Linked DNA regions of Homo sapiens: region 2 is linked to region 1. Evidence: fine-mapped expression QTL. A gene starts in region 1. The other region holds a variant in brackets. All regions are shown on one strand. Distances are from middle to middle.

Evidence for each region. PIP is the estimated chance that this variant, and not a neighbour inherited with it, causes the effect.
Region 2: its variant is fine-mapped to the expression of FAM227B in whole blood (TOPMed, PIP above 0.99). The same link has a PIP of 0.9 or more in fetal neocortex.

The regions. Positions count from the first base shown.
Region 1 is chr15:49,615,265-49,631,719 of GRCh38, forward strand. It overlaps FAM227B (family with sequence similarity 227 member B), which reads right to left and starts at 5,554. Exons shown (of 16, transcript NM_152647.3): 1 at 5,436-5,554. It overlaps DTWD1 (DTW motif tRNA-uridine aminocarboxypropyltransferase 1), which reads left to right and starts at 5,784. Exons shown (of 5, transcript NM_001144955.2): 1 at 5,784-5,858; 2 at 9,849-10,167. The coding sequence starts at 9,904. RefSeq lists enhancers at 5,896-6,015, 9,862-11,061.
Region 2 is chr15:49,499,336-49,507,335 of GRCh38, forward strand. The region is part of intron 11 of FAM227B (family with sequence similarity 227 member B); the gene reads right to left. Among named protein-coding and RNA genes, the nearest start is that of FGF7, 80 kb to the left of the region's middle. The variant G/C (reference allele first, on the strand shown) is at 3,905.

The DNA of each region.
Region 1 (16,455 bases):
AATGCAAAAATAAATGACTCAGCCAAACAATCCCTTTCCCCTCACCCACAAACCTCACTTCTGACTTTTACCAAGTCAGATAGTTTGGCTCTGTATCTCCACTCAAATCTCATGTTGAACTGTTGGAATCCCCAGTGTTGGAGGTGGGGCCTGGTGGGAGGTGATTGGATCATGGGGGTGGTTTCTAATGATTTTGCAACATCCCCCTAGTGCTGTTTTGTGATAGACTTCTCATGAGATCTGGTTGTTTAAAAGTGTGTAGCACCTCCCCCTTCACCCTTTTCCTCCTGCTCCAGCCATGTAGGACGCATCTGCTTCCCCTTCACCTTCTGCCATGATTGTAAGTTTCCTGAGGCCTCCCCAGCCATGCTTCCTGTACAGCCTGTGGAACTGTGAGTCAATTAAACTTCTTTTCTTTAAAATTACCCAGTCTCTGGTAGTTCTTTATAGCAATGTGAGAACGGACTAACGCAGCAGGGGAGGAAGGGCTGGAAAATATATTCTGCTCATGAAGCTGGAGGTTCTACTACGTCACATGACAAACGACATGCATATAACAAGAAATGGACAAGGGAAGGCTAATAATATAAGCTATTATAATGTTTATAAGAAAGATTGGCCTGAATTTTTCTATCTTATAATGTGAAGATTTGGAATTAAGGCTATTATGGTCTCAAAAAAAATGAGTTGGGAAATGCCTCTATTTTTTTCTATTATCTGAAAGAATTTAAAATCTGAAAGATCAGTACTATTTCTTCCTTTCTTCCTTAAATGTTTGGTGGACACTGCTAGTTATGTTCCCTGAACCTGAACCTGAAATTATGGGGGAGTTTTAAATTAAGGATACTGTTATGGACCTAATCATGCCCCCACCCCAAATTCATATGTTCAAGCCCTAACACTTATAACAAGATGTGACTTTATTTGCAGATGGAGCCTTTGAGGAGACAATTAAGGTTAAAAGAGACTAAAAGAGTGGGGCTCTAATATGATTGGTGTCATTATGAGAACAGACACCAGAGAGCTTGCTTGCTTATACTCTCTCTCCATATACACACAGATATTTTATCTGTGAAAATATCTAGAACTATGAAATAATAAACTTTGTGTTGTTTTAAGCCACTTTGCTTGTTGGCTGTTTGTTACAGCAGCAATAAGAAACTAATATGAGGAGAAAGAGTGATTTTTTTTTTTAGCATTTTGCAGATGTGAAAAATGCCACACACTTAACTGATGCTCTGTCTATATAAGAGAAGAGGCTTTGTAAGGACATGGTGAGAAGGCAGTGGTCTACAAGCCAGGAAGAGAGGCCTCACTAGAAACTCACACTGATGGCACCTTGGTCTTGGACTTCTGGCCTTTAAAACTGTGAGAAAATAAACTACTGTTGTTTAAGTCATCTACTCTGTGGTATTCTATTACAGCATCCTAGGTAGACTAATACAGATATAAGCTATCAAAATTAATATAGGATCATTCAGCTATTCTATTACTTCTTAATTTTGGTAAATTATCTTTCAAGAAAAATTGAAATGTCAAGTATTTTGATATAAATATTTATTCTTAATATCCTCCTATTATCTTTGCAATCTGTAGTGTCTGTGGTGATGTTTCATTTTTCATTTCTGAAATTTGTACTTTTCTTTATCTTGGTCAGTCTATCTAAAGGCTTATCAATTTTATTAATCTTTGCAAAGAACCAGTTTTGGCCTTGTTGCTTTTCTTTAGTGCACATTTGTTTTTAATTTCATTGATTTATTCTTATCTTTATTAGTCCCTTTTCTTCTTTAAATGTTTGAGAAACTTCCAATGATAAACCTTGCTCTACTATGAAGCTGAATGCTTGACAATTCCTGTTGAGACACCATGAGGCTTTCTATCACCATTTTAATCCTTGTATTTCAAAATGGATAGAAAGCTAAAGATTATTATTTATGGACTAATTGTGAAATAAAAAATATTTTTAAAAAATGGAAATCCAAACAAGTGACTAAAAATAAAATCTAGGCATATACAGACAATGTGGGGAACAGAAGGAAACTTCAAAAAAGTCTTTAAGACTCATAGAGAGCTATAATAAGATAATGCATCCCTGAAACCAAAACTGCATGTTATAAATGAATACAGAATAAGAAAAAATGCAAAGTACAAATATGATATAAATTATTCAACAACAGTCTAGTGAAAAATAGCTGAAGAAATCTTCTAGAAACTAGAACAAAAATGTTAAAGTAAACAAGAATCAGAGGATAAAAAAACAATAATTTAGAGGATTATGCCAGAAAATGACTTTCAATCTGTAAATTTAAATATAAACAGAGCATCAATTAAATGTGTGGCATTTTTCAGATTTGCAAGATACTAAAAAAAAATTCATCTCATATTAGTTTCTTATTGCTGCTGTAACAAACAGCTAACAAAGTGGCTTAAAAAATCACAAAGTTTATTATTTCACAGGTCTAGAGGTCGGGAATCTGAAATGGGTCTGCAGGGCTATGCTCCTTTCATGTTTTGTGTGTGTGTGTGTGTGTGTGTGTGTGTGACAGAGTTTCACTCTTGTCGCCCAGCATAGTAAATTTACTTGTGTAACAAAAAAAACACAAAATATCAATGGCTTAATACACATAATTTTTTCTCCCAGAAGATCTTTTTGTGAGAAAAGGGGCTTCTAGCAGTCACCTGCTATCCTTTGCTCAGAGCTCCTCCCTCTATCTTCAAAGCCAGCAGTGTAGAGTCTTCTCCCCTCTCTTGACATCTTGTCTTCCTCTCATAAGAACTCTTTGATTATGTCCAGCCACCCAGACAATCCAGGGTAATTTAGCCCATCTCCTTAATCACATATGCAGTTCCTTTTGCCATATAAAATATCAACAGGTTCTGGAGGTAAGGATATAGACATCTTTGGGGGCCATTATTCTATCTACTACACTCCTATTTACCTTTTTCCAAGAAGGTATTAGAGAATGTAGTTCATTTTTAAAAAGGGATTAAACAAAGAAAAAGGAAACAAGGGATCTAACACACAGGAGAGCAGTATTATGTTGGAGAAACCAGCAATCCTAAATAAACTAAAGGCTGTAACGCTGTAGGAAGAGTATCTGTAAGGAAAAAAAATCTACTGGATTAACTGATGTATTTCACTGTGATGCTTTAGCAGTTTGCCAGTGTTTGAGAACAGATAAATAATACATTAAAAATGGCAGTTAAGAGAAAGGAAAGTAAAAAGTTGTATTAAAAGTTAATGCGATCTTAGTATACTATGTGCCTTGGGGTTGAATGACATTTACCTAGACAGTAGTGATAACACTAAATGTTGATTTAGCCAAAGCCTATGATATCACTATTGACAGGTGAAGGGACAAGAAGAGTGTATGAGGTAGAGAGGGAATGTTCACACACTTGGAGGTGGTGTTGTTACAAAAGACCTTTATCACTGCCTTCCACAGGAGAAAGTCAGTGGGTAATGTCTGAAATTGGAAAATCAAGAAACTGCAATGTAAGTATATTTAGACATGGGGGTAACAGATGAAATATTTAAAAGACTTGAATTTTCCTTTGGTGAGAAGAATTGAGAATAGAGTAGAAGGGTTGGGTACTACAGGGTTTTCTTTAACCTAGAATGTGGCAAACTGTTAGTGCTCACCAATATGTGTGTGTTTCTCTACATTTCTCAGGATCCCCGGCAGTTAAAGTGGGGGCCTTGGGACTAAATTCTGGCCAACAGAATGTGGCCAAATTGATACATGTCATTTTTAGAGTTAACCTTGGGTAATTTGCCATACTTTCTTTCTTGTCAAACAAGCTAGTCCTAGAAGGCAGCAGAACCATTAAAAATAAAAACATCTGGCCTTGAATTTAACATTTCGTCTGCCTAGAAATAGCCACAATGGATCTTTTGTGAGGAAAAAAAAAAGTGTATTAAACCACCGATATTTTGGGGTTTTCTGTTACAGAAGTAAATTCACTATGCTGGTTTTAAAACATGGACAAGAAATCTTTGCCAATCCTTTGAGAAGAGGGATCTATGTCTCCTTTCCTAAAATGGAACAGGACTTTGACACATTTGTAAGCAAAAGAAAGTGGGGGAAGTAGCACCGCGTTACTTTTTGAGGCAAGGTCAGAAAAGGTCAGGCAATTTTTGCCTTGTTCATTGCAACACTCCCTTTGGAGCTCTGAGTTTAAGCTAAGAAGTCTGACTACCTTGCTGCCATACTGTGAGGAAACCCCGGCCATATAGTTACAGAAGCTCTGCTAGCATGCCCACTCTAGTCTTTCTAATTGAGTTACCAAAGAAAAGCTGATGACTATGCCCTATTGACAACACCACCTGTGAACATAATAAAATGGTTGTTTTAAGCCACCATATTTTGGAGTAATTTATTACATACGATAGCAACCCAATGCTCAATCTAACAAGTAGTATTATTTGCTTTTTAATCTGTGCAATTTAACTACTTTGATAAAATTTAGAGTTAAACTAAAAAGGAAAATGGTTGTGAATTCTTCTTGGCTTATAGACTTTGCTATTCTACTTTCCCTACCCAGAAAATTCACCTTTCTCCCTAAATCACTGGCTTTCAAACTTTTTAAGGTTTGAAATACAGTAAGAAATACATTTTACAAACAAGCCCTAGTGCACACATACACGCATATATACAATTAAAAGCTCCATAAAGCAGTACTTTACTAACTAACACTAAATTTACTTACATGCGCTGATATTTCCAATCTATATTGTTTCTTTTTTTTAAGTTTAAAGAGATTTCCTTGCTTACAAATGGGTCAAGACCTCCACTAATGGGTCCCACACAATCCCCTTTCCAGTTGAAAAACACTGTCCTAAACCTAAATCATTCTTCAAGGCCTTACCCAAGTCCGAAAAAGAAGCCTTTATTGACCACTCCATTCTCAGCTTTCTTGAAATTCCTGTAATTTATTAAATTCCATTTTTTATCTCAGTAGTAAGAATATTGCATTTTCTGTACTTGAATTTAACATGCTTTACTTGATATCGTGAGCACTTCTAGGGCATTGTAATGTCCTTTATCTACCACTTGATAAATTCAGAGTAGTCAATAAAACATTGCTCAACATTTGACCATTGTGTTTTAAAATCTTAGTTGTTAGAGTGCACTTCCGTTTGCGCATTGTTTGGGGAGAGGCACGGACAAATGTTCTAATAACTTATCCACATATTATACTTCAAAGTGGAAAAACACAAAGTACTCTTAACTCTATATGCGTGTTTTTATGCAAACTAAATCATTAAGATACAAATGATTTTTCTAATAGCTTTCATTACCACACAGCACACGAAATAATGATATTGATATAGCCACGAAAGACTAATGTAACCAAGTTCTCACAATCAAAATATCTTTGAGGTGGGCAAAATGCAAACTTTTCTCTGGGATCAACATTTCTTCACAACTCACTGCAACTACGCCTTGACAGTATGTTTCGAGAACCGCTTCCCAATTTTGTTGTCCCAGCAAGAATCGGGAGGAAACTGGGTGAAAGGCTGCGAGGCTTGAGGCGGGTCCCGGACGAACGCGGCCCTGCCCCTCGCCGGAGCCTCTCGGGAGAAGTGCGACACCGCCGCTGATTGAGAGGCTGAGGCGGAACTTCCCGTCTAACCCCCCCCCCGCTGTCGTCCCAGCCTGTTGCTTAAGCCGCGCGGTGTGCGGTGTGCGCGGCCCCTGCCTTAGCAACGACGCTAGTAACTGCCTGGCTCCTCCCTCTGGTGTCTCCCGGAAAGCGCTCCGTCTGGTCCGTGCGCGATCACGGCCCGGCGCGTGGCTCGGGCTCGGGCGGAGCTGGAGACGTGTGGAGCTGTTCGAGGACTCGCGGGTGTGCAGGTCTGAGTACCACTCCGATCCCTGGTGGAGGTCCCCGCGCCTCTCTGGAGACCAGTGGTCTGGCCCCAGAGGTGCGGCCGCGGGAAGTGGACATTCTTTGTCAGGACCCTAGCGGAGGTCGCGCTGGGTGTCGCCTGTGAGGGGGATCCTCGGTTTCTGCGCGGTCTCTTGCTTTTTTTAGGATCTTGCGGGCCCTTTGGGAAAAAGGTTTCCAAATTTTTCCTCAAAAAAAAAATTATTTTTCCTACCAATGATTTTCGGTGCATTCCGCCCCAACGAAAAGTATGTCCTGGCAAAGTCAGTTCCCTAGGAACCCCATACTTTATTTTATTTTATTTTTAGTATTTGGAGTGGTTTGTGGGGGTTTGGTTATCACGGAAGGGGAAGCGTAGTACAGACGTAGAATTAGTGATGCCATGCAGTGTATTTAAAATATTGAGGTTGTGGTTACATAATAAGCAAAAGAGCCTGTTTCTTACGTCTAAATTATTTATTGGGAATGTAGGACAAATAAGGAAGTATATTAACATTTTCAGTCGCCAGGCCCACAAAGTTGGATGGTAAAATCAATACTGTAGATCGCAGCATGTAAGGACTAACCCAGTGCACCATGAAAACGAAGGCAAGACAGTTTGTTACCATATGGCGGGTGGTGTGGGAGAGGCCATTGATCCTATATGAAAAAGGGTACTACTACCTTGGATTATGAAAAATGAATGTTGGACCTGTAGGTCCTATGTGACCAAGTTCTTAAAAACACTCTAAAGAAAATTGGAAGTGGTTTTTTTCTAATACTGAATTGGTCCACAATATAGGACAGGGGAGTCTGTATAGTGTTCCATTGGGAGGTGAGTCAGCTTACAATAATGGAAGAGGTAGAAGCTTTTTGTTATTATTTTGGAGAAAAAAAAATTGCCAGCCTGCCACTTGTGCTAGGCTGCAGACGGCCCATAAAGGTAGTTTGTCAGATACTTCAGTAGTGAGATGCTTACTGGATGTGTTTTGCAGAATGGTTTTGATTTAGTTAACAAGTGTTTGTTGAGTTCCTGCTGTTGCATAAGAATCAGGAATAGGTGAGATCAGGGAAGGAATCTGCTCTTACAGAGTTGAATGCTGGAGGGGATAGATTCACTAAAGTACCTCCACAATAAATGCATTTTTCCATGTCAAATATGTGGAACTAATAATAAGTACTCAAAGAGGTTTAAGACATTGCTGTGGCCCATCTATGAGTTAATAAGGAACTGAATTAGAATCCTGACTTTGAGAGTGAAGATAGAGGATTATATACAAGGTAGATGCAACTTGGTGAGTATAATTAATTTGGGGTGGAAATTGGGTAGAAGGAGGAATAAAAAATTAATGTATTTTTAGCCTTAAGTTCCAGAATGATGGACGCACCATCAAGGTGTTAAAATTGTTAGTTCCTTAGGAACAGTCTTTATGTTTTCTAAGTCTTTTTAGCCCCCATGACTCAAATTGTACTTCCTTGCACATATTTGATGTTAACAAGTATGTTTTAAAAATTTTAAATAACCCCATTTGCAATAAAATCATTTGCAATGATTTTCTCACAGTCGAGGCAGGCTGTTGGCTCGGTTAGGACAGATGCCCTGATCATGTAGTTTCAGAGACCACTGGAGGGAGCTGCCCATGATTTACAATTGCTGGCCTCTTCTACGTGGCCACCTCAGCCATAAGTGAGAGTATATAGGTGAACTAAGAGGTGGAGCCATAAACATTTCTCTTTTACTGTCTTACAGGTATTTGTGGTGGTTGATTTTTCTAGAGGAAGGTTATTTATATAAAGCTTCACTAATATCCATTTAGTTATGTGGATAGCAGGTCCATGAACTGCAAAGTGATATTTCTGAGGTATCTCTAGGAGGAATGCACTTTCAGTGCCCTAGGATAACTCCAAAAACTCACCAGTAGTTTTCTGTTAAATGTCAGGCAACCACAGTAACTTTCATGACATCCACAGGAACTACATTTTTCAGTCCCACTATGCCTGGGCCTTTGAGTGGTACATGCATTCCCACTAAATAGCTACTCCATTACCCAGGGAAATGAAGTCAGGTTGAGCTACTCCAATCAAATTTCATTTTTTAGGATGAATCCCATCATCTGAATAACTCAGGACTATTAAAGCCTCAAAATGTTTCTCTGTAAGAACCTCAGGCAACACCAGGACAAACCCAAAGAGAGTTTAGGTGAAACTTAGCTTCGTATGTGCAGCAAAGAGACGCCAACAGAGCATTTGCAACTCTCATTTCTGGGGACTATTAGGATCTCTTCCCAAGCTTTTTTTTTTTCTCTGTTTTAGAGATGGGATCTCACTTTGTTGTCCAGACTGTTCTCAAACTCTTGTGCTCAAGTAATCCTCCCACCTTAACCTCCCAAATGCTAGTATTATAGGCATGAGCCACCATGCGTGGCCCTTCCCAAGCTTGGAACTTCCTTACCTGGGTCGTAGATGGACTCTAGGAGATCTCCAAACCTCCTGAAATTGTGTGCAAAATATTGTGTCTGTATATGCATTTTCTAGGGATGCGGTTTAATATTTTCATGTGATTCCTAAAAGAATCTGAGGCTCAAGAAAAGAGGGCATCTTAATATCCTGCACTTTCAGTCATTGAGGGCATGATCACAAAGATCAAAGCCATTTTTAGGCAGGTGAGTTGGAGTGGCAGTCAGAAGTAGGTAAGATTTTCTATTTGTGAGGCAGGAACAAGGGATTGGACCATTGTTCTTAAATACTGCTTTCTTACCCAAAATGCAAATCTGTGCGTAATCAGTACACAGCAAAAATATTTACTGTATTTTGTTTTTCCCCTTGGGTACATTTGGCAAGTGCCTTTTTCTACTATAACCGGCGTTTTTGTATCTCTTTATTTGTATCTCAAACTCACTGGGACTTACAATCTTAAAAAAAAAAAGAAAAAGAAAAATTCATTTGATGAGTAATTAAATTAGTGCCACTAACTTCTTCTCAGCAAATTATGTTGTATTTTATGTTTCTCTGGACTTTTTGTTCACTTTCTGTTTGGGAGACCACAAAATGTTTCCTGCTGGAGTCACAGCATTTCTCTTGTCCCTGTTTCTACTTAAAGTGCCTGGAGCTTCGTAGTTAAACCACAATGCCAGAAGGCTTTATAATAAGAGAATTATTTTACAGCTGTGGAATGCATATCGAATCAATAGGGCACCAGTGTTGTTTCTCCCTTGAAAGATATCTTCCTTACAGGGTATACAGATAGCAATTTTGGCAGCCATCACCCTTCTTTGAAGAAAATATTAAGTGGGAAAGTTATTTTACCATTTTTCTCTAGTACTAAAGAATCTGAATGATGTATGTTTTTAAAAAACATAAATTCTTAGAGTAAGTGGACATTAATGTTACTCTGTAAATTTTTAAAATTTATAGGATAATATATTTTACCTTATGGGATATTTTACAAATTGTAATGAGTAGTAGATGCCTCTTATTTTTTATTGGATATGAAGTTTTATATGTATATGCACACATGTACACAGACACACTCACACATATGTAGTGTGTGTTTAAGTTGGAGAGGGTTATATCTTTTAGAACATAACCAACTAAATTTTGCCAATTCCACTAGAATCTTCTATTTTTCATTAATGTCAATTCAAAGTCAGAGCCAACAGGGTTGAATATATCCCTGTCTGATGCTAACGTGAAACCATTGCATTCCTAATATCTGGAAAACAAAACTGCCATCTCTGGAACAAAAAAGGGTTCTTGAAAAATGGATTCTCAGTACCTGAACTTTATATTTGAAATAACTTTCAGTTTATTGCTTTTAATCTTATGTTTTAAAGTGTGCCAATTTGGTGGTTTAAAACATGTTTAATAAGTACTAAAACAGCACACAATTGTGACTTAAATTGAGTAATTTTCTTTGTAGACTGAGTAAAATGTTTTCTGTTTTTATTTTTCCTTCTCTTGATACTTTTTTTTTACAGTGCACCTATGATATGTGTTTTAGAAATAGCCGTTAAACTTTGGTTTGAATGAAGAATGTCTCTCAATCCACCTATATTTCTCAAACGAAGTGAAGAAAATAGTTCAAAATTTGTGGAAACAAAACAGTCACAAACTACTTCCATAGCTTCAGAAGATCCCCTTCAAAACTTATGTTTAGCATCTCAAGAAGTTCTTCAAAAAGCTCAGCAAAGTGGGAGATCAAAATGTCTCAAATGTGGTGGTTCCAGAATGTTCTACTGCTATACATGTTATGTTCCAGTTGAAAATGTACCTATTGAACAGATTCCACTTGTGAAGGTTAGTAAGAAATTTAATTGTTTGAAAGTATGAAAATAGATTTTTTAAAAACATCTCATGTATACCTACTCTAATTGATAAACTTAATAAATAATGTTATTATTGTTAGAAACAAGTGCTTGTTGCTGCAAAGAAAAACTAGCACTTAGACAGAAAATTTCTCAGCAGGGCACATTTACTTCTGCAGAAGGGTGCTGCGCCTGATCGCAAGAGCACACCGAACAAAGGAAGGAAGGGATTTTTAACCCTAATGCAGTTCCTGTCCCTGTGTCCTTCCCTTATTGGCTAGGGTTGGACCACACAATCAAAACTGATTCCAGTTGGCTAAGACTTAAAATTTTCCAAATAGGGTAAATGCACGATTTGTAAAAGGAGGGGTTAGGAGTGGTCTGTCCACTATAGTATAAGGCATGTCTGGACATGTTTGGCCATGTCAGGGCACAACAAGAGTGGGAGGGTTGTTTGCAGGCTGGAAACGAGAGTACAAGGAGCTTGGGCTTCTGAACAAAGAATAAGAACATCACACAATTAAACATTTTGAAGAGGAATTTATCATTCCTAGCATGAAAACCAAGTGTATTTATGGAAAATTTAGCCCTACAGACCACTAAACCTCTTTGTTTTTCTTGTCTCTGGGTCTGAAATGGTGTTTTTAATGAAACCAATTAATTTTTCATTAATGATTTTAATTTATTTACAACATGGGAAAAAATGTGTGATATAAACTTATGAATACTAAAAAAAAAGTTTATAGACACCCTGAAGGAGCTCCAAACACTCATGTCTTTGGACTGCTCCTTGAGAAAATACTATTCTAGTAGAATTAGAGTTGATTTTCACCTAAGATTTTGTGACTTATCCTATACATGGGGATGGAGCAGATTTCATTGACCAAAATGAAAATAAAGTAAAATTTAAAAACTAAGACCAATTCCCTGGGCTGTGTTATCATTAGAGTGATTTTAAGCCCGATTTGATTGCTTACCTTTATACTTTTTGGGCTCACCAACACTACTTTTGTATAGGTAAAAGGTCTGTAGAACGTCATGTCTACATAATCAAAGAATTTATTATATATATGTTAACTTGTCTAACATTATCCCAAACTTTAGGAATAAATCAATTAATGTATAAAATTTGACTGTGTAAGACTTTAGAGAGACTAAATTCTACACATGGACTCATTAGAACTTGCCAGTAAAAAAAAAATAAGTTGTAGCTATATTTTAAAATTTGTTTTGATGATTTTAAAGTTCATTTGAATTTGAAGTAAGAAGAGTACTTTGACACTCATATTTTATTTGAATTTCAGTTTAGCCTATATCATCTTGGCCAGTCCATGGTCTCCTCAGCATCTAAAATCACATGTATAGGCTAATGGAAAGTTTACTAGCCAAGAATAAGTAAGTGTGGAATTTAATATGATCTTCACAGTTTGCTCCGAAAAAACAAGAACTTGAGGGTAATAATTATTTTCAAGTTTCCCATTATCTTACAGGAATGTTACATTTTGAAGTATGGTTTTTGAAGTATACGTAGAATTATTCTATTTTACATTTCTCTCATAGCCATGTAAAGAAGGGATTCCATTAAAAGTTTTATCCTAAGGTGTATTGTATTAAAAAATGGATTGCATATTATAATAATAATAATCAGTAATATAGTTACAGGGCTGATATTTTCATAGATATTTAATAATAGAGGGTATTTTCCAAATCAGTGGTCTAATATACACCATTTAATAGAAATGACTCAAGACATTAGTGTTTGATCATCTCTCAATGGTCTGGACTGTGCAGAGTTTTCTAAAGTGTTTATATTTTAATGGCCTTGTATAAAATTTGATACTTTAATATACATTAATGGTAATAACAGCTCTACAAAATGTCCTTTCCAATTTTTACTTTATTTTTATTTTAACAAATCATTCAGCATTTGCTTTTAGATAGCCTACTTGGGAAAGGAGGATGACAATATAATGAGTAATTCCCTCCCAATTTTAGTCTAGGGAATGCATTCATAAATATAGTCATATGTCTCCTAATGACAGGGATACATCCTGAGAAATGTGTCCTGAGAAATGAGTCGTTAGGCAAATTCACTGTTGTGCAAACATAATAGAATGTACTTACACAACCTTCATAGTATAGCCTACTATACACCTGGGCAATACCTATTGCTCCTAGCCTACAAAATCTGTACAGCATGTTATTGTACTGCATACTGTACACAGTTGTACACACAATGGTATTAGTGTATCTAAACAAATATAAGCATAGAAAAGTACAGTAGAAGTACAGTATAAAAATAGTAATCCTTTATGGGCACTTAGCATGAATGGAATTTGCAGGACTGGAAGTTTTTCTTGGTGAGTCAGTGGTGACTTGTGAGTGAATGTGAAGGCCTGTGATGTTACTGTACACTACTGTAGTTTTTATAAACACTGTATACTTAGGGTACACTACATTTATGAAAAATATTTTTCTTCAATAATAAATTAGCTTACTGTGACTTTTTTACTTTATAAACTTTTTAAAAAACTTGTGATAACACTTACATTTAAACACAAACACATTGCACAGCTGAACAAAAATATTTCTTTATGCTCTTATTCTGTAACCTTATTCCTATTTTTATTATTTATTTATTTTTACTTTTTAAACTTTTTTTGTTGAAAACCAAGACACAAACACGTTACCCTAGGCTTACACAGTGTCAGGATCATCAGTATCACTGTCTTCTTCCACCTCCACATCTTGTCCCACTGGAAGCTCTTCAGGGGTAATGTATGGAGCTGTCATCTCCTATGATAGCAATGCCTTCTTCTGGAATACCTCCTTAAGGACCTGCCTGAGGCTATTTTACAGTTAACATTTCTTTTTTCTAATTAGGATGAGTGTACTCTAAAACTAAAAAAATTAAGTGTAGTATAGCAAATATATAAACCAGTAACAGATTTATATTATCATTATTAAACATTATTGTATAGCATGCTTTTATATGACTGGCAGTGCAGTAAGTTTGTTTACATCAGCATCATCACAAGCATATAAGTACTGCACTGTGGTGCAATGTTACAATGGTTACACTTCGCTAGGCCATAGGCATTTAGAGCCTAGAATTTAAAAGGCTCTCTTGGGGAAAGTTGATAATCCCATGGGAAAATGCTTAGGTCTCCTTGTCAGTAGCATTTTGATAAACTTGGGCAGAAGGATTTGTGGTAAGTCTCTTTTATAAAACATAAGTGTTCGAGAGCAGATTGATATTCTTTACTTGTTTGAAAACAGAATGTCTCTACTCAGACTGCCCTCTGGTCAACACTATTTTTTTTTTTTAAACACAGTTAAGCTTTAATGTCCATACGAAGCCTCAGAGCAAATGTTTTTGTAGCTTGTAAAAAAGCAAATTTTTTTTCTTTCTTTTTTAATTATACTTTAAGTTCTTGGATACATGTGCAGAACTTGCAGGTTTGTTACATTGATACACATGTGCCCTGGTAGTTTGCTGCACCCATCATCTACATTAGGTATTGCTCCTAATGCTATCCCTCCCCTAGCTCCCCACCCCCAGACGGGCTCCAGTGTGTGATGTTCCCCTCCCTGTGTCCATGTGTTCTCCTTGTTCAACTCCCACTTATGAGTGAGAACATGCGTTGTTTGGTTTTCTGTTCCTGTGTGGTCAACACTATTTTGTTACTCTGTACTCTTGTCATTATTTAAGAAATAATCTTCTTTTAACATGTGTGAACTAGAACACAAACATGGATTTCCATGATTTGATCTGTTTCTGTGCTTTGGTTTTATGATGTGAGAGATCTCACGCTCATGGAAAACTAACAATACCTTGGATTGTGTACAGGTTTTGCATAATTATGCTTGCAGACTTTAGTTCATAAAGCTTTTTCTTTTATCATATAATTAAAAAAATAGGCTAGGCACATGATTTATAAAATTTGTCAATAACACTCCTGTGTTCTTGATATAAATGATACCCTCCAAGATAGCTAGCTGATCAGAAATATTGATAACTTTTGGAATTTTCAGCTTTACTCATCAGCCATATAAGAAGTTCACATTTATGATCTGCTTTCTTTTTCTTTTCTTGTCATGATCTGCTTTTTTTTCTTTTCTTACTTCCTACCTTCCCTGGGCTAAGATAATACTGATGTGGTGCTCAGAGACCCTAGGGAGAGGGAAGGTAGTTTCAACTGAGACCGAGCGTCATGAGGAAACTCTGATGTAGTGTTCAGCCAGAAGTAGACTGATGTAAAATCATTTGTGAACTGCCTACTTAAATGGTAAATTTTCCATAACTAGAAGTTGGTTTGATGATTAGAAGCAATTGGGCCTAACTTATAAATGATCATTGGGCCTAACTTATAAATGATTGCTAGGCCTAAGCGGGGAGGGTAGGAGATACAGCATTTGAAACCCTAATTGAAAACTATTTGAGGAATTCATTTGTAGGCCAAGGTCCTCCAGGGGTGTATTATTTATACTGTTCTGTCCCCAACATAATTGTCCAGGAAGAAAAAAATTTGAAATTGAAATTATTTAGTAGCTGCTCCATTCAAAAATAGTTTTGGAACTAATGACACACACACACACACAACATGGAAGAACCTCAAAATAATTATTCTTAGCTAAAGTCAAATGAAGAGGGTATATTGTATGATTTCATTTATATAAAATTCTAGAAAGTACAAACTATAGTGGCAGTGGATTACTGATTGCCTGAGGAGGGCAATTGTTGATGGTGAGAGGAGAAGGAAGAAGGGCTTGAGAAGACTTTTGATAGTGGCAAATCATTATTTTGACTGTAGCAGTGGATTCAAGAATTTAACATATGTTAAAACTTATTAGATTGTACACTTTAAATATGTACAGTTTAAGACATAAGAAAAATAGTTTTGTCCTCCAGGGTAAAATAGTGTGCCCAGGGTAAATTCCTAGAATCCTACTTATTTAGCATGGGATGGGAACTTGGAGATGGTGGGAACTACCAAATAAAACAAAAGGTCATTTAAAAGCTGAAGTCAAGAACACATCTCCAGAGGGTTTCTTATATATAGTAAGGGAGATATGATTTGGCATTTTTTTCATAATCATGGCTGAATGCAGTACTTGTATAAGCATTACAAAGAGAGCTAAACCAAAAAAGCCAAAGTGAAATAAGAAAAATATAATTTACAAAATCCAAGAGAATATTATTTTTGCATAGAGACATGTTACAGACAACATCTATAACAAATAATGAAACTTCAAGGGAAATACTTAGGCAACAGGGGTCCCCAATCCCCAGACCACAGACCAGTACCGGTCCTAAGGAACCAGGCCGCACACCAAGAGGTGAGCTGCTGGAGAGCAAGCGAAGCTTCCGTCTGTATTTACAGCCGCTCCCCATCACTCGCATTACCACCTGAGCTCTGCCTCCTGTCAGATCAGCGGCAGCATTAGATTCTCATAGGAGCATGAACCCTATTGTGAACTGTGCATACAAGGGACCTAGATTGCATGCTCCTTAGGAGAATCCAATGCCTGAAGATCTGTCACTGTCTCCCATGTCCTAGATGGGACCATCAAGTTGCAGGAAAACCAGCTCAGGGATCCTGCTGATTTTACATTATGGTGAGTTGTATAATTATTTCATTATATATTATAATGTAATAATAATAGAAATAAAGTGCACAATAAGTGTAATGTGCTTGAATCATCCCCAAACCCTCTCCCCAAACCCTGGTCTGTGGAAAAATTGTCTTCCACGAAACCAGTCCTTCTTGGTGCCAGAAAGATTGGGGAGTAGTTAGGCAAGATGATTTTGAAGACAGTTTTGTGATATAAAGATTACACCTCTTAGGTCTATTGTTACTATTTTTTAATTGATAATTATTTAATTTGTGCTATTGAAAATGTGATGCCGAAAATCATGATGTTTCCTGCAAAGGATAACAGTTTTGACTTGAAAGTATGTCTAAGGAACAGAATTTCAACTTGAATTTTAGATCTGAAGCTTTTTGCCCAAACTTACATTTCTTTTTAAAATAGCGTAAGAGGCCAGGTGTGGTGGCTCACTGGTAATCTCAGCACTTTGGGAGGCTGAGGCAGGCAGATCGCTTGAGGTCAGGAGTTCAAGACCAACCTGGCCAACATGGTGAAAACCTGTCTCTACTAAAAAAATACAACAATTAGCTGGGCATGGTGGCAGGTGCCTGTAATGCCAGCTACTTGGGAGGCTGGGGCAGAATTGCTTAACCCAGGAGACGGAGGTTGCAGTGAGCCGAGATCACAC
Region 2 (8,000 bases), 120 kb before region 1:
ATGTATAATTGGAAAAAGATGTGTCTGTATAGTAAAAACTAGAAAACATTGCTGAGAAAAATTAAAGAAGTATTATATAAATATAGGCATATTCTATGTTTGTGAACTGACAAACTCACTTTGTTAAGATACCAATTCTCCCCAAATTGATCAATACAATGTATTTAAAATAAAGATGCCCGAGTATATATTTTAGAAACTGACTAGCAGTTTTTCAAATTTATATGGAAATGACAAGAATCTAGAATAACCAAAATAATTGTGTAAAAGAAGCGCAAACTTGGAGGACTTATAGTACCTAACTTCAAGATACATTATAAAACTACAGTTTTAAAGGTAGCTGGTTATTGGCATCAGTGGAACAGAATACAGAGAACAGACATAAACCAATATGTATGGTCAATTGATTTCCAAGATAATTCGATGAGGAGAGGATAATCTTTTCAACAAATGGTGCTAAAGCAATATGCAAAGAAGTGATTCTTAATGTTTATACATATAATTAAGAAAAATTACTCAAAATGAATTAGAGACCTAAAAGTAAGAGCTACAACTCTGAACTATAAAGCTACATACTATAAAATTTCCATGTGAAATTGGGTTCACAAATATTATTAAATAGAATGCAAAAAGCACAAACTATATTAAAAAATTGATAAATGGGTTTCTTCTAATTATAAACTTTTGTTTTTTAAAAGATGTTATTAAGAAATGAAAGGGCAAGCAACATACTGGGAGAAAATATTTGTAAAATATGTATCTGAAAAAGGACCTGTTTCTAAATACATGAATAACTTTTTTCTAGGCTGCAGTGAATTATGATCATGGCACTGTATTCCAGCCTGGGTGACAGAACAAGATCCTGTCTTTAAAAACGAACTAACTAAATAAATAAGCATAAAATATATAAAGACCTCTTATAACTCAATAAGAAGACAAACAACTCAAATAAAAATGGCCAAGATATTTGAACAGACACTTCAGCAGGCACTCAATAACCTGTGAGAGCAGCTGTGGGGGCAGAACCCCACAAAGCCACAGGGGTGAAGCTGCCCAAGGCCTTTGGTGCCCATCCTTTGCACCAGTGTGCCCTAGATGTGGGACATAAAGTCAAAGGAGGTTATTTTGGAGCTTTAAGATACATGGATGGCAAATAAGCACATGAAAAGAAGCTCATCATGATTGATCATCAGAGAAATTAAAATAAAACCTAGCTAAATACCAGTATATAACTCACGAGAATAGCTAAAATTAAAAAGACCATAACAAGTGTTAGTAAGGAAGTAAATATAACTTGTATACTGGTAGAAATGTAAAATTTCGGATAAGAGATTGACAATTTCTTAAAATGTTATACATACGTGATATAGTTTGGATATCTACCCCCAACCAAATCTCATGTTGAAATGTAATCCCCAATGTTGGATGTGGGGCCTGGTGGGAGGTGGCTGGATCATGGGGGCAGATCCCTCAAGAATGGCTGGGGCCATTCCCTTGGTGGTAAGTGAGCTCTTGCTCTGAGTTCATATGAGGTCTGCTTGTTTAAAATTGTGTGGCACCTCTGCCCCCCTCTTGCTTGATCCTGCTTTTGCCATGTGACATGCCTGCTCTCCCTTCACCTTCTGCCATGATTGTAAGCTTCCTAAGGCCTCTCTAGAAGCTGAGCAGATGCCAGCACCGTGCTTCCTGTAGAGCATCCAGAACCATGAGCCAATTAAACCTCTTTTTCTTGTAAATTACCTGGTCACGGGTATTCTTTTATAGCAACACAAGCATGAACTAATACAGAAAGTTGGTACCAGGAGTAGGGCATTGCTATAAAGATACCTGAAAATGCAGAAGCAGATTTGGAATTGCATAATGGGCAGAGGCTGGAAGAGTGTGGAAGGCTCAGAAGAAGACAGGAAGATGAGGGAAAGTTCAGAACTTCTTGGAAACTAGTTAAATGGTTGTGGTCAAAATGCTGATACTGATATGGGCAGTGAAGCCCAGGCTGATGAGGTCTCAGATGGAAATAACAAACTTATTGGGAACTGGAGCAAAGGTCATCTGTGTTGTGCCTTAGCAAAGAACTTGGCTGCATTGTTTCCCTGCCCTAGGGATCTGTGAAAGCTTGAACTTCAGAGTGATAATTTAGGGTATCTGGTGGAAGAAATTTCTAGGCAACAGGGTATTCAAGATGTAACCCTGGCTGCTTGCAACAGACGACACTCAGATGCAGGAGCAAAGAAATGATAAATGTGGAACTTATATTTAAACAGGAAGCATAACGTAAAAGGTTAGAAAATTGGCAGCCTAGCCATGTGGCAGAGAAAGAAAAGGCTCTTTTGGAAGAATAATTCAAGTAGGCTTTGTAGCAATGACTTGCTAGAGAAATTTGCATAACAAAAGGGAGCCAAGTGCTAATAACCAAGACAATGGGAAAAAGGCCTTGAAGGCATCCCAGAAATCTAAGACACAGGTCCTCTAGTCACAGGCCCTGAGGCCTAGGAAGACTAAATGGTTTTATGGGTCAGGCCCAGGGACCTGCTGTCCTGCACAGTCTTGGGCCACTGCTCTGTGCATCCCAGCTGCTTCAGTTCTAGCTGGGGCTTTAAAAGGTCCAGGTACAGCTTGAGCTGCCACTTTGGAGAATGCAAGCTATAAAACTTGGCAGCTTCCTCATGGTGTTAAGCCTGTAGGTGCACAGAATGCAAGAGTGAAGATCATTTTGCAGCCTCTGCTTAGATTTGAGGATGTATGAAAAAGCCTGGTTGCCCAAGCAGAAGCCTGCTGCAGGGGCAGAGCCCTCATAGATAACTTTTATTACGGCAGTAAAGAGGGAAAATGTAGGATAAGAGCCCCCACACAGAGTACCCACTGGGGCACTGCCTAGTCGAACTGTGAGAAGGGGGCCACTGCCCTCCAGACCCGAGAACGGTAGATCTACTGGCAGCTTGCACCCTGAATCTGAAAAAGCCACAGACACTCAATAACCTGTGAGAGCAGCTGTGGAGGCAGAACCCCACAAAGCCACAGGGGTGAAGCTGCCCAAGGCCTTTGGTGCCCATCCTTTGCACCAGTGTGCCCTAGATGTGGGACATAAAGTCAAAGGAGGTTATTTTGGAGCTTTAAGATTTAATGACTGCTCTGCCAGGTTTGAACTTGCATTGGGCCTTCAGTTCTTTTCTTTTGGCCGATTTCTCCCTTTTGGAATGGCAATGTTTACCCAATGCCTATACTCCCATCGTATTTTGGAAGTAAGTAACTTGTTTTTGACCTTACAGGCTCATAGGCGGAAGAGACTTGCCTTGTTTTAGATGAGACTTTGGACCTCTGAGTTAATGCTGGAATGAGTTAAGATTTTCGGGGACTGTTGGGAAGGCATGATTGTATTTTGCAATGTGAGAAGGACAAGATTTGGGAGGGGTCAGTGGTGAAATGATATAGTTTGGATATTTGTCCCTGTACAAATCTCATGTTGAAATGTAATCCCCAGTGTTGGAGGTGGGGTCTGGTGGGAAGTGGTTGGATCATGAAGGCAGAGCCCTCATGAATGACTTGGGACATCCCCTTGGTGATAAGTAAGCTCTCACTCTGAGTTAACACAAAATCTGGTTGTTTAAAAGTGTGTGGCACCCCGCATTGCCAAGTCAATCCTAAGCCAAAAGAACAAAGCTGGAGGCATCACGTTACCTGACTTCAAACTATACTACAAGGCTACAGTAACCAAAACAGCATGGTCCTGGTACCAAAACAGAGATATAGATCAATGGAACAGAACAGAGCCCTCAGAAATAATGCCACACATCTATAACTATCTGATCTTTGACAAACCTGACAAAAACAAGAAATGGGGGAAGGATTCCCTGTTTAATAAATGGTGCTGGGAAAACTGGCTAGCCATATGTAGAAAGCTGAAACT[G/C]GATCCCTTCCTTACACCTTATAAAAAAATTAATTCAAGATGGATTAAAGACTTAAACGTTAGACCTAAAACTATAAAAACCCTAGAAGAAAACCTAGGCAATATCATTCAGGACATAGGCATGGGCAAGGACTTCATGTCTAAAACACCAAAAGCAATGGCAACAAAAGCCAGAATTGACAATTGAGATCTAATTAAACTAAAGAGCTTCTGCATAGCCAAAGAAACTACCATCACAGTGAACAGGCAACCTACAGAATGGGAGAAAATTTCTGCAATCTACTCATCTGACAAAGGGCTAATATCCAGACTCTACAAAGAACTCAAACAAATTTACAAGAAAAAAACAAACAACCCCATCAAAAAGTGGGCAAAGGATATGAACAGACACTTCGCAAAAGAAGACATTTATGCAGCCAAAAGACACATGAAAAAATGCTCATCATCACTGGCCACCAGAGAAATGCAAATCAAAACCACAATGAGATACCATCTCACACCAGTTAGAATGGTGATCATTAAAAAGTCAGGAAACAACAGGTGCTAGAGAGGATATGGAGAAATAGAAACACGTTTACACTGTTGGTGGGACTGTAAACTAGTTCAACCATTGTGGAAGTCAGTGTGGCGATTCCTCAGGGACCTAGAACTGGAAATACCATTTGACCCAGCCATCCCATTACTGGGTATATACCCAAAGGATTATAAATCATGCTGCTATAAAGACACATGCACACGTATGTTTATTGCGGCACTATTCACAATAGCAAAGACTTGGAGCCAAGCCAAATGTCCAACAATGATAGACTGGATTAAGAAAATGTGGCACATATACACCATGGAATACTATGCAGCCATAAAAAATGATCAGTTCATGTCCTTTGTAGGGACATGGATGAAGACGGAAACCATCATTCTCAGCAAACTATCGCAAGGACAAAAAACCAAACACTGCATGTTCTCACTCATAGGTGGGAATTGAACAATGAGAACACTTGGACACAGGAAGGGGAACATCACACCCCGGGGCCTGTTGTGGGGTGGGGGGAGGGGGGAGGGATAGCATTAGGAGACATACCCAATGTAAATGACGAGTTAATGGGTGCAGCACACCAACATGGCACATGTATACATATGTAACAAACCTGCACGTTGTGCACATGTACCCTAAAACTTAAAGTATAATAAAAAAAAAGAAAAGATCAGATATATATTGTTCATAACTTTGTTACTCAAAGTGTGTGGAACTAGCACCACTCGCGTTCCCTGAAGCCTGCTAGAAATGCAAAATCCCAGGTCCCACCCTAGACCCACTGAACAGAAACTTTTAATAAAATAAAGGTCATTCATGTGCATGTTAAAGTTTAAAAAAAAAAAGTGTGTGGCACCTCCCTTCCACTTTCTCTCACTTGCTGCTTCTTTCACCATGTGATGTGCCTGCTCCCCCTTTGCTTTCTGCCATGACTGTAAACTTCCTGAGGCCTTCCTAGAAGCTGAGCAGATACCAACACCATGCTTTCTGTAAAGCCTGCAGAACCATGAGCCAATTGAGCCTCTTTTTTCCTAAATTACCCAGGTTCAGATATTTATTTATAGCAATGCAAGAATGACCTAATACGTTACATAACCATGCTGCTCTGTCATCCCACTACTAGATGTTTATCAAAGAGAAATAAAATCCTATATCCGAACAAATACTTGTATATAAATGTTCATAGCAGCTGTATTTATAATAGCCAAATACTGAGAACAATACAAATAGCCACCAAAAGATGAATGGATAAACAAATCATATTATATTCCTACTATGGAGGACTACTATTCAGCAATACAAAGGAAGAGATTATTAATACATGTAACAACATGAATGAATCTCAGAATAATTATGTGGAATAAAAAATGTTAGTTGAAAAACAGCATGCACTCTATATAATTTCATTTATGTAAACTTCTAGAAAATTGCATTCTAACCTATAGTGACAAAAATTACATAAATGATTGCCTGTGGGTTGGTGGCAAGAAGGAATTACAAAAAAAGCATAAGGAACTTTTGAGAGAGATAGATGTTTTTTTACCTCGAGTTGTAATGGTTTTACAGATTTATACATACGTCAAAACTCATCAAATTTTACACTTTAAATATATGCAATTTATTGTACACCAATTAGATCTCAAAAAGCTGAAAAAACATGTAATTATTTGAAACAAAAGTCATGACACTATATAATGTGAGGCTATTATTTATGTAGATATATTTGACAATAGCAAAAAAGACACGGGGGTGTATATGTAACTATACTGCTCCAAGGTCCTACATTTTAAGTTAAGTAGGACAATATTAACTTTAGATAGTATTTTGATAATTTAAGAATGCATTTTGCAAGCATTAAAGCAGCCTCAAAAAATACAAAAGTGGTATAGGTAAATAGCCAATAGAGGAATTAAAATAGAATGACAAAAATATTCAATTAACCAAAAGAAGACAGGGAAAACAAAGAACAGATGGGATAAATCTCAAAACAAATAGAAACTAGTAGAAATAAGATTAATCATATCAATAATTACATTAAATGTAAGTGAAGTAACACTTCAAATTAAAGTGAAGAGATTGTCATCCTGAATAAAAAAACAAGACTCAACTACAGATTGTTTACAAAAAGTATATAAGAATATGAACTAGTTATATGTAAAATGATGAGAAAAGATACGATGTGAACCATAAGCATAGGAAAACTGAAGTGTCTATATTAAGATTAAACAAAATGAACTCAAAAAAAGAGAATTATCACAGCTACAAAGGAACATTTTATAATGGTTAAAGGAAAAACCTAATAAAAGTATATTTGCTCAATAATTTAAAAATGGATACAGCAAAAATCAATAACATTAAAGGGAGAAATAGATAATTCTAAAATTATATTTTAATATCCCCTCTGAGTAATTAATAGAACTAAATAAAATATCAATAAAGATATAGAACTAGGGTGAGCAAAATTTTTCTATAAAAAGCAAGTCAGTATTGTAGGATTTTCAGGCCAATGTAGTCTCTGTCACATATTCTTTATTTTGTTTTACGTTTTTGTTTTTTACAACCCTTAAAAATGCAAAAACCATTCTAAGTTCATAGAATGTATAAAAACATGCTACACACCAGATTTAATCCACAGGCTACAGTTAGCTGACTTGATACAGAAGATCTGAATAATACTATTAGCCACCTTGATCTAATTGAGATTTTTTTTAACTGCAGATATACATTCTTCTCAAGTGTACATGGAATGTTCACCAAGACAGACCACATTCTGAACCATAAAACAAGTCTCAACACGTTGCAAAAGATCATACAGAGTATGCCCTCAGACCACAGTAGTTTTTTTTTAATTAGACATCAGTAATTTTAAGATATCTAGAAAGGTCCCAAACATTTGGAAATTAAACAATACTTTTCTAAATAACCCTACTTTGACCTACTAATGGGTCAAAGTAGGAATTACAGTAAATGTTAGAAAATTTTTAATTAAGTGATAAAATACAACATATCTAAATACAACACACTTAAAGCAGTGCTTAGGGAAATTTAATCTTTAATTGCTTATGTGAAAAAAGAAGAAAGAGAATGATTTAAAGAACAAGCAAAATATAAATAATTGGTAGGTAAAGGATATATGGGAGTTGTTAATGCTATTCTTACCACTTTTCTGTTACTTAAAAAGAAAATGGAAAGTTCACAAAATACTCTCAATTTAGTTATTCATATGTGAGGGTGAGAAGTCAAAACAGATAAACAAAATTGGCTCAAGATAGTAGACTATTACTCTTTCTATCAGAAATCCCTAGAAATAGCCCCCCACCCCCCATAACAATATATACGAAGTTTTGGTAAAACACTGAGGATGACAGCAAACAAGAAAATTTCCTGTAACTAATAAAAGATAGAAATCATATTGGATGATATATACTGCGATAAGAATATAGAAAACCACAGTTAAAATAGTGATGCTCTAAATTCAAAATTCTCAGATCTGAAGAAGAATAATTAACTAATTAAATAATTCTAGAATCAGATTAACTAAAGAATAACTTCCCAAAGAGTAGG